Homo sapiens: one gene and its partners. The protein of the gene in region 2 interacts with the protein of the main gene of each other region in a biochemical or structural test. Each region holds a gene or a part of one and is shown on either strand. Other genes may lie near its edges.

Region 1 (3,749 bases), on a different chromosome or scaffold from region 2:
CCAACAAAACTCCAACCTTTCTACACCTTAATCCCTCAGGCCAATAAAACATCCATTAAGTTAAGGACAACTGATACTACTATTTAAGAAATGATGACAGTATTGAAGCTGAGTATTGGAGCCACTTTTTTCAGAGCCTTGCTGGAGGGAAAGGTAACAATGGGCTACTTAGTGAAAACACAAAATACACTGAATTTAGGTCAACCTGTTACCAAATCGGAAAGTTGGTTTAAGACCTACATCTATTACAGGTTCACTTTCCGTAATAAGTGTCAATCAATGTGCTTGGCTAATAAGTAGCTCGAAAGATTTAATAGCCGAGGATGACACAGTGAAAAAGTTGCCTGAAATCCATACTCCTAACAGAACATGAAAAAGGCTCTTCATATATACACGAGCATGAGTGGGCTTTACAGAAGCCACAGACCTTCTGGCAAAGTTGACAAGTTTTAACCTGCTTTAAAAATTACTATTCACTGCCTTCATCCCAATGTAACTTTACTGAGTGTTATTCTATTGGACAACCCTACAAAAACAAAATCCCCAGAGCAAATTCTTGTACATTTCAATATCCTGCCTACTTATAAGAGCGGAAGAGTCGAACACAGCAGGGGAAAAAACGTGACGTGCACAACCTTGATCCAAAACACAGCTCTTCGTAGTTTAATTTTAGGCCTAACCATTTTGTCTTTTTATAAAGGTTAAAAAAGAAAACAAAGAAAGGACACATCGCCTGTAACGCAGAAGTGAGATAATGATATCAACCGGAGTTCGTTATTTATCAAGGGACAACAAATCACGCTCACACTGCCCAGGGAGAGTACTACTAAAATTAAGATACAAGGATGGGTACAACCTCACACCCACTGACGATGACACGCTTCTGTTCTTGGATGACTTATCTTTAAAGAATTAGTTAAAAGGTTGAGTGGCAACGTTTTGTGTTTGTGCGTGCGTGTGTTTCCAAGAGAGCCAAACATGGTGAAAAACCAATCTTAACTTCACCTAAGTTATCTAAAGAAGCAAATTTCACCCCTAGGCTGAAGCTCAAACAGGAGCGAGGAGAAGCTCCGAAAGATCAGTTCGTAAGCGGTGGCCCTCAAGCGCCCGGGACGCTCTACGTTTTTACCAATGTGGAATGTGGAAAAGAGGTTACAGGCTGGAGCTGAGAAAACAGTCAAGCTACTCGCGACAATATTCCTGAGCAGTGAAACGGGTGAACAGAGAGCGAGCAAGCAGGGGCTGAGAATCAGTGAGAGGAAAAATCAAGGAACAAAACCGGAGAGTCTGGTCCAGCATTAAGAAAACGGAGCAAAGGAAGAGGGTGAAACGCGAGGGGAGGGAAGACCGAGAGTCGGCAGAGACCGTGGTGCCGCGAGGTTCAGAGCAGGGCTGGGTCCAGGAAGAGTCAGACCTCCGCAGCCCAGCGAGCTTCCCATTTCTGGCTAAAGCCAGCGAAGAAAACGGCCCTGGGGAGCAGACAATGAGCCACCGCCCCAGGAGCTGCGGCTCCCAGCACGCAGGTGGCGGCTCCCCGGCCCCGCGCGGGGCAGGTCGGCCGTCCCGGGCCGCTCCCGCCCGCCAGGCCACGGAGAAGGAAGGAGGAGGAAGAGACCCGGCCTGCGTCCCGCGCCGGCCGGCCTGTGTGCACTTACCCCGGGCAAGGCAAGGTCCCCGCCCCAGCGAGGCGCCTCGGTCAGAGCTCCCGGCGGGCTGCGGAGCCGCCCCGGGCTAGCGCGCGGTGCGGGGAGGGGAGGGGAGGGAAGGGGAAGCGGGGCGGGAAGAGACGCCGCGCTGGAGCAGCCGCTGCTACCGCTAGGCCCAGCGGCGGCGGAGTCCTGCGCACGCCAGGGAGGGGAGGGGAGGGAGCCTTCGGCAATGGCGACGGCCCGGGCCGGAGGGGAAGCGGAACAACCGCCGCCGCTGCGCGTGGCCACAACCCTGGGGGAGGAAGACGGCGGGGAGCGGGGCGGGGCGGGGCCAGAACCCAGAACCCCTCCCGCCCCGAAGCCGGAGCTCCCCGGGGCGGAGACGAGCGCCACCTCCCATGGGCAGGCCCGCGCGGGGGCCGCTGGGAGTAGTAGTTCGGTGATAGACGTTGCTTTTATTCCTTGGGTAGTCTTTGTATTGAGAGGAGCAGCCAGTCCCTCATTTAATTCAGCATTGTCTCCAAGCAGGTCTCTGCCGACGGAAGACGCTGACAGACGATTGCTGTTATACACATCTGCTCCGCGACATTTGTTTCTGGGAATTCATCCGTTATCCATTTTGCTTTTTTGCTTACAAATTCTTAACTAAAATTTTGCTGCTAAATTAAGTATCACCTCCTTGCAAATTAAGACTTCCCTATTTTATCCACGGAGGAGTTCATCAATGTTTCACTTATTCTACAAATATTTGAGTGTCTGATATGGACTAGACACTGTTAAGCATCAGAAATACAAGGGTGGTTCAGGTGCGGTGGCTCACGCCTGTAATCCCAGCACTTTGGGAGGCTGAGGCAGGCGGATCACCTGAGGTCGGGAGTTCGAGACCAGCCTGGCCAACACGATGAAACCCCGTTTCTACTAAAAATACAAAAATTAGCTGGGCATGGTGGCACGCATCTGTAGTCCCAGCTACTCGGGAGACTAAGGCAGGAGAATCGCTTGAACCCAGGAGGAGGAGGCTGCAGTGAGCCAAGATCGGGCCACTGCACTTCAGCGTGACAGAGTCGTCATGCCTCAAAAACAAAACAAAAAACACAAAAGAAATGCAAGGGTGAACACGATTCACCAAGCCTTTGTGGAGCTTATATGAGGACGCAGTAATTAAAGTAGTCACACCTGGTATAAGAAAAAACTTGGCGAGGTTACTTTGGATAGGGTGGTCGGAGAAGGCCTCGTTAAGGAGGTGACACTTAAGGCAAGAACAGAAAGAGACAGCAATAAGAAGCACCCAGAGAAAAGCAATACAGGCAGGAGAAGAAAGAAAAGGGCTTGCTACGGTCAGTTAAGAAGGCCTGTGTAGCTGGGGCCTAGAACAAGAAGGCGGTACTATTAAGAAAACACTACAGCAGACAAGATTCAGGTCATGAAAGATCCTGAATGCCATGGTAAAAAGTCTATATTACAAAAAACCATTAAAAGGCTTTTTTAAGCAGGAAAGCGATGTTACCTGGCTTACACTTTAAGATCACTAGACTGCAATGTGGATAATGGAGTATAGAGATGCAAGAATAGAAGGGAAATAAAGTAGGAAGGCAGTGGAAAGAAAGAGGAATTGTGCTTCTCTATCAATGTAGAGCAAAAAACTCAATTGATGCAGTGGGTACAGGAGAGAAAGGAATCAAGGAGCAACATGGCACAGTAAGAGATAACCTGAAAAATGCTCTGATTATTAAACACACAGAAACACTGGATAAATAAGACATCCTTTCAAAGGCATAACTTGCAAGAATGAAAATAGAATGTTTCTGACAGTCTTCCAAATTTCACACTCAACCTGAAGAAGGGGCAGGACACCAGAGTGGTAAGCAGGGCAGTGAAGCCATGGTTGTGTTGAGGGCACCTACTTATCTCAGAAATCTCTAGAGTTTTAATAGGTGCACAGGAAACTAAAGACAAGGACTTGGGCCTATACAAGAAGTCAGGACTGTGATCCTGCATAGGACTGGAAATTCAAGGCGCTATACCCTCCAAGAACAGACTGGGGGGAAAAAAAACCCTATGCTAGCCCAGGGAGACACACAGGACATTTGTTTACTTTGG
Region 2 (3,749 bases):
GGATTCGCCAGTTTACCGAAGAGAGGATTTCAAATGAAAGTGAAAATTAAGTGCCAAATGATTCAACCTCAATTAGCAGCACACATTCTTCCATGCAGAGCTGAGCCCTGCCTTCCTCCCCGGGGTCGGGGAGGCAGTCATGACGGAGCAACAGGAATGGGCTCAGCTCTGTTCTAGAAACTGGCGCGATGGCAGGGAGTGAGGCAGATAAGGGCCCCGTCCTCAGGGAGCTTCCATCCAAGAGGAGGAGTGGCAGCAAAGGAGCAGCAAGATGAAGTCGGGCTGTCGGGGGGCCTATGAAGACAGCCAAGCAGGGTGGTGGGATGGAGAGGGCAGGTTGGAGACGGGGGGCTGCTGTAGACAGGGGGTCAAGGAGGCGATGTTTAAGCAGGGAACTGAATGACAGGAAGCAGGGAGGGTTCTGGGTGTCATAAAGGGGAGTGAAGAGGTTCGGGGGAGGCAGAGATCATCAAGGCAGTCTGTGTACTTGGAGTGAAGTGGGTAAGGGGTGTGGTAAATGAGGCTGGGGAGACGGGGGCTGTTGTTCACGGTTTGCGCATTAAGATGAGTTTTAAGTGTGAAGGGAGCCACAGGAGAGATTTAGGCCAGGTTAACTTTCAGTTGTTTTTTGGGAGGCTCTTTTTATTTTATTTTATTTTTTGAGACAGGGTCTCACTTTGTTGCCCAGGCTGGAGTGCAGTAGCACAATCACAGCTCAATGCAGCCGCACCCTCCTAGGCTCAAGCGATCCTCCCACCTCAGTCTCCCGAGTCGCTGGGACTACAGGCATGCACCACCATGCCCGGCTAATTTTTGTATTTTTTGTAGAGATGGGGTTTCTGCTCCATGTTGCCCAGGCTGGTCTCGAACTCATGGGCTCAAGCGATCTGCCTGCCTCAGCCTCCCAAAGTGCTGGGATTACAGGCATGAGCCACGGCGCCCAGCCTAACTTTCAGTTTTAAAAGCTCACCAGGGCTTCCGTCGAGCTTGGTTCTAACGAGGTGAGGTGTAAGGGGGCGCCCCTCTATGCCACAGGCACACGAGGGCACTGTCTTCCTGCCATGTTTCTGTATCCCCAACACCTAGCACGGGGCCATCCACAGAGCAGACTCAGGCTCCCCATCTGCGAAACGGGGGATTTGATGCAAAGAACTCACAGGGCCCTGCCGGCTCCAATATAGGGTCTATACAACAGAGCAGGCGGCAAGAGCCAATCACGGTGCAGCCCCACGAGTCCTGGCAACTGATTGGCTGCTCAGGAAGGTGTCAGTTCCGAAGGTTCAGGTCCATCCCTTTGCTGTTAACCCCTCATGGCTGGCAGCATGGGGAGCCAGCTCTCAGGCTTATCTGATCTTGTATCTGCAGCAGGGGCCTCCCCAACCCCCAGCAAACCTACCATCCTCAGCCCAGAAGCTCTCTCCACCTTAATCTCAGGTGCCAGAGATTTGGGGCTGCCTGTTTTTCCCAACCCACCTTCTCTCCCTCTTCCCCCTCCAATGTCAAGGGCCCAGTGTGACTATTTTACCCTCCCTTCACAGGGGCACAGGCATTGGCAGTAGCAGGATCCCGCTCTGGGGTCTCGTCTGGGGCTGAGAAACTTTGTGCCTGAAGCCATATGAGGGTGTGAGGCAGGATTCACCACAGAACTTGCAAGACCCAGTGCAAAATGGAAGTACAGGGCCCATGCTCAAAAATGATTAAGAATTTCAAGATGTAGACATCAGAGTATTAAACAAGGTGCAGGACCCTTCTGAGCATGGGGCCCTGTGCAATTGGATAGGTGGCCACACGCATAGAGCTGGCCCTACTGGGATACCTTCACCCAATCCTTCGGAGAGACTTGGGAAGGTAGATCTGGTCGGGCCTATTTCTCCAGCTTCTGTGATGTTGTCCAGGACAACAAAGTCCACTAGGGGCCACCAGGGATCAGGGACCTCCAGGCTGCTGAGAGCACCTGGCCATAACCTGGCCTCAGCAGCCTCAGCCATCCATCTCAACGTACAAGGGAGGTGCCTGGGGAAGGAGCTTGGGACTTCCAAGCCTCTACCTCTTATAGAAAAGGAGATTGAGGCTCAGAGAGGGGAAGTGATTGGTCCAAGGTCCTTCAGCAAGTGGGTCCTTCAACTCAGCCAAGATGCACAAAGGCGGGACAAGGTCTCAAGCCAGCATCCAGAGACCCAGGGACAGAGGCAGTGACAACACACTGCTGGTGACCATGGCCTTGAGCAGGAGCTGCCTCACCTAATTCTCCCTCCCTGCTCAGGTTTGCAGCCAGCCCTCCCTTGGCACTTAGAGGCACCTGATAAACGTTTGATAGTTGATGGTGAGTGGGCAGGAATCCTTGTTCCCATTTTGTATATAAGGACAGGACCAGAGAGGGGCACTCACCAGCATCAGGACCGAGCTGGGGCAAAAGCGGCTTTCTAGGCTCTCTGCTAGGGTTTCCCTGCCCTCTCCTGGCTGCCTGCCTTCCTCTAGCCTGGGCCAGGGCATCTAAGGCAGCTGAGCAGAGTGTCCCGGGGAGAGACAGCAGCAGAGAGAGCCCAGCCCACCCAAGTCTGGGGTTGGGGGTTGGGTAGTGAGGAATCCTCTGGGGTGGGTTGGAAGCATCTCGGCTCCAGGCTCTCTTCTCCCTTCTGCCTGCCCTCCTCTTCCTAGGAGAGCCTGATCCCTGCCCCTGAAAGGGGGGTTCATTAAGATCAAGAAATGAGGGCCCCCGCGAGGTTCTGCATGGACCTTGGCTCTGAAGCTGGACAGGACCGTGTAAGCCTGGGAGGCAAGCCTCTTAGTGGCTGTGAGGCTCAGCTTCCCCATGGGTGTCCTGTGCATGCTAATAGCCATCTCCCAGGGGGATCAAATGAGATCACACATGTGTGACATCTTGCGCAGGGGCCAGCATGTGGCAGGCCTTTGCTAGATGGTGGCTATGATCGATCTTCCTGTGGTCCTTCCCACGATGTCCAAGTCAGGTCAACTCAAAACACATGTGTTGTGTGTAAGGTAATGCATGTGTCATACCATGTAGAAGACACTGTGCTGAGATAATGGGAGACCCACAAAGAGCTGGCCATGGCTCCCTGCCCTCCACAGGCTCATAGTCATGGGAGAGATCAGATAAAGTCACTCTGGGGAGTGGAGACCCCTTCGTGGTAGATCAGAAAGGCTTCCCGGAGGAGGGGGCACTGGAGCTGCGCCTGGAGGCTTTAGACAGGTGGATGTGGGGAGAAAAAGCACTATGGGGAGAGAGAACAGCTTGAGCAAAGGCCCTGGGGTAGAAATGTGCAGGGAGCTTGTGGCGAACAGTAGGGTCCGGAGGAGGCAGAGTGTGAAGCAAAGTAATGGGTAATAAGGCCAGGTGGGAGGTTGAGTGAAGGCCATCAGGAGCCTTGAGTGCCATGCTAGGGAGTCGGGGAAATGTCCTAGGAGTGATGGGGACCCCTGAGGGCTGGCCAGGGAGGGGCTGGTGCCTCCCCAGTCATCCTTCCCTCCTGAGTCTGACACCAACACGCTCCCTCCACGTCCGATGACAGCCCTGCCTCCGCATCCTGCAATAGAGCGCAGGGCCTCCCAGGCCTGCAGACAGCTCTGTTCCACCCCTCAGCATGCCTTGTCCCCAGGTGTCCCTGTTCCTTGGAGTCAGGCTCTCTGGATCACCTCCTCCAGCAGCCTGCTTCCGCAGAAGCTCCTCTCCCAGCTCCTGCTCTTGCCTGAGCCAGCCTTCTCCTCCACGTCCCTTTGCTTGGAGGCCC
Region 3 (3,749 bases), on a different chromosome or scaffold from region 2:
CAGTTTCTGTTCAGTGACAGCATAGTTAGTCCTCAGGTTTTGCATCTGTGAAGCATGGATGGAGAAAGAACTGTCTCTTAGAATTTCACACATCTCACAAAAGAGTAAGATGCTCTTGTTACTAAGCTTGTGCTATATCTGCTTTGGGAGGGAATATATTCTTACAAATTAAAAAAACACAAAGCCAATGGCAAGATTCACGATGCCTGCTAGGGACTGGACCTCTGCCCCCTGTCTCTCCGGACCAACAGGTGCCATGGTCCTCTTGATCTCCTGTGCCTGACCATCCCTGCAGTGAAGATGGCCAGGCCAACCCTGACTCCAGGGGCTCTAGGTCTCCATGTGAAGTGGTGACCATGAGCCCTCCGGGTGAGAGCAGTCTGCCTTTCCCCACTCTGAATGAAGAACTGCCCAGGGCTTGCCAGACACACACCTCAAGTTACCATAGGTCTAGAGTTTAATTACAGATTATGTTTATGAAACATGCTGGCTGGGAAGTCCTCTAAAAGGGAAGAAAGTATTTCAGGTCATACCTAAAGCACTTCTCCTAATGGTGGCTGAAATTCAGACCTTGACATTTTGAAGGCCCACTGATCAGCTGTCCTAGCTGGGCCCCCTTGAATTTTTCTCAAACCTGTCTCTTAATACGTTATTTGGTGTTTTCCATGTTTGCTGTTAGTTATCTCATACCTAAAGGGCTATTATCATTATTAATATTTTTATTTTTTGAGCCAGAGTTTCGCTCTTGTTGCCCATGCTGGAGTGCAATGGCGTGATCTTGGCTCACTGCAACCCCTGCCTCCTGGGTTCAAGTGATTCTCCTGCCTCAGCCTCCCAAATAACTGGGATTACAGGGATGCACCACCACACCCAGCTAATTTTGTATTTTCAGTAGAGATGGGGTTTCACCATGTTGGTCAAGCCGGTCTTGAACTCCTGACCTCAGGTGATCTACCCGCCTCGGCCTCCCAAAGTGCTGGGATTGCAGGCGTGAGCCACCACGCCCAGCCCTATTATTATTTTTGACAACAACAGCAAAGATCTGCCCATCCGACTGCAGGAATTTAATACACAGCCTTTGTCAGTGGTAGAAATTCTATCACTGTATGACTCATGAGTACATAACAATGTGCTATACCATACTTCCTCTTTGAGGGATAAAGCCCCTGCACTCTAAGGGAGGATTTCATTATGCATTTCTCTTATATCACCAGAAAATTATTTAGTGGAAGACAGTTTAATATTTGACAGCTTTGAACCATTTTTTTTTCTCTTTCAACCAGTCTTTTTACATTGTCTGCTTAAAAACAGGAAACCACATATCTCCACCCCAGCACAACCCACCATCCACCAGCACAGACCGTATCATTTTGGATCTACAGTCTTTTTCTTCCAAGCCTGGCCAGGTGCCTGCTCCTACTTTGCAGGAAACCCCTCCAGGCACTCCCGGTGCGTGTTCTCAGAGCCCTTCTGAGAATATTCAGGATTGCACTTCCTGGGCTGCAGCGCACCCTGTACCCTCCTTTTTTAAGCCTCCTCCCCTGAGTCACTGCTACCCTTCCCTCCTCTAACTTCCCCTTCTCTGCAGCCTCCTTAGCAATTTCTTATCATAAAGTTTGTTTTAAAGAAGAACTGCCCCTCTAAAAAAATAATAAACTGTCGAGGGCGGTAGCCCCGTCTAGAGGTTTCCGACTTTGCTCTGTGCCCACCTGAAGCCTCCCCAGCCCGAGGTATTTGAACTTACATTCAGTGCTTCACGTCTCTGTCCGGGGTGCCTCTGTCTCTCAACTCTGACTTCTGAGTACTGGCAGTTAGAACAGGAAGGAAGTCAATGAGAAAAAAAAATGTTTTAGACCTACTTGAAGAGGAAACCCTGGGCTGTCTCAAATCCTGTTCCTTTGCACTGCCTATCTCTTGATCAGCCAACTTGAGCAGCATTCTTGTCAATTAATGGCACATGTGCGAGCATGACAGCCCGTGTGACGTGGAGATGCATGAATGTACACGCAAGAGTGTGGAGCCTATAGCTATGGGTATTATGAATAATTGTGAGGGTATTTCTGATAATCAGGTCATTGCAGTGCATAAGCCTATGGAGGTAAGGAGCCTGAAACCAGTAGCAATAAATTCACATCGGCTTTACTTTGTACCACTCACTTCTGTTCCCACTGGGTCCCCGCCAGCTTCATTATCAACCAGATACGTTGAAAGTTTGCTGGCAGTGAATGTAGAGTGCTAAGAAATGATGATTGTTAACTGCATATACTACGGTCCTAAATTTAAAAATGTGTCCTTAAACAGATTTTTGGAGTTTTGTTGGTTATAATTTCAAGACGTAGCTTTGTATTGCACTACAAACAGTCAAATATTGTTTTTAATAGTTTTGGCTGATTTTTCTTCAAATGAAACAAACAAGCAAGCGAAAGTACTGTCTTTGATGAAACCTAGGAAAGAAATTACAAAAGGAAGTAAAACTTCATTAATTCATAGTCTTCCAACTCAGAATTTGTGACAACTTAACAAGTGCCAAAATAGACTTTGTACCATATTTGAGGAAATGGTTTATGAAGTAATTTAAATGGGAACAAGTCTCGGAGGCCATGTTTAAACCATCTGAGGAACAGTTTTTAAGCAGCCAAGTCACATTCATGCTGTATATTCCCGTAGCTGTTACCAATAATAAATGCTTATTTAGGTTAATATTTCAATATTCAGTATTTACACTACATCAATATATTTAGATCTGACTAAGCACACAAATTTGGAGAAACTGACGTTTATTTTGTTTTCACCTAAATGTACTGCATCTTCTTCATTTCCCTTTGTAAATTGATACCACAGGGTTTGCCTTCTACTTAGAGTCAATGAAATCGGAATAATCAAGGGAGTCATTTCACGTGAGAAGAGATTAGCCTAGAAAAATATGAAAAGGAAAATAGTATATAATTAAAATGAGCAAAAATACTAAAAGCCTAATACCACTTTATTCTATAAATTTTAAAATAGCATAGACAGAATACAGCCCTTGAAACAATGTACATAACTTTATTGTAAAAACAAAGCAAACCCTAATTTACACAGAAGGCAGTAACTTACACATTCTATAGCTCTGCACCCTCAAGAGGGGATACATTTATTCATTCCATAACATTTATCGAGCACCTCTTTTCTTTCAAGTACTGTTCTAGTTCCCTTGTGCAGCAATAGACCGCAGGCGACATCTCTGCTGCCCTGTGGAACTTATGTTGTACCTAGGAGACAATTAAAATAACACAGGCAGAATACATTAATTGTAACAAGAAATATTTAAAAATGAAAAATGGTAAATGCATGGTCTCTATTCCACCACTCATTTCTCATGTTATTAGGGAACACCTCACTAGGCAAACCTGGCTTTTTTTTTCCCTCCAGAGCCCAGTGTATATCGGAGGGTATGGGAGCACCCCTTCCCAGAAAAATCTGTAAAATCAATACATATTTTACAGATTTGTATTATAGATTAATGTATTTATTGGGGGATGAGAGAGCATTCATAATTTTAGAAAGTTCTAAAAGGACTCCAATTATCAAAATATACTTAATTCCTGGTCATATGCAAGGAGCCACGGAAAGGTACAGAAATAAACAAGACACAGTCCTAGACCTCAAGTAGCTAAAAGATGTAATGGGGAAGACAGAAGCAGACAAATTTAATTTTTTTTTTGTCAGCATAGGAAAAGAAAAAATACATGGTGTGTTTTGAGAGTACA

The links.
Region 1: the proteins of RAC2 (region 2) and PAK2 form a complex in vitro, tested with the Homo sapiens proteins (one study listed by BioGRID).
Region 3: the proteins of RAC2 (region 2) and ARHGDIB are reported together in a solved structure, tested with the Homo sapiens proteins (one study listed by BioGRID and IntAct).

What each region holds. Positions count from the first base shown.
Region 1 is NC_000003.12:196,738,064-196,741,812, reverse strand, and holds the start of PAK2 (serine/threonine-protein kinase PAK 2), read right to left. Parts: upstream 1,957-3,749; 5' UTR 1,656-1,956; intron 1-1,655. UniProt on the Homo sapiens protein: Serine/threonine protein kinase that plays a role in a variety of different signaling pathways including cytoskeleton regulation, cell motility, cell cycle progression, apoptosis or proliferation.
Region 2 is NC_000022.11:37,237,594-37,241,342, forward strand, and holds part of RAC2 (ras-related C3 botulinum toxin substrate 2), read right to left. Parts: intron 1-3,749. UniProt on the Homo sapiens protein: Plasma membrane-associated small GTPase which cycles between an active GTP-bound and inactive GDP-bound state.
Region 3 is NC_000012.12:14,959,793-14,963,541, forward strand, and holds the start of ARHGDIB (rho GDP-dissociation inhibitor 2), read right to left. Parts: upstream 1,810-3,749; 5' UTR 1,745-1,809; intron 1,489-1,744; exon of another isoform or gene 1,362-1,488; intron 1-1,361. UniProt on the Homo sapiens protein: Regulates the GDP/GTP exchange reaction of the Rho proteins by inhibiting the dissociation of GDP from them, and the subsequent binding of GTP to them. Regulates reorganization of the actin cytoskeleton mediated by Rho family members.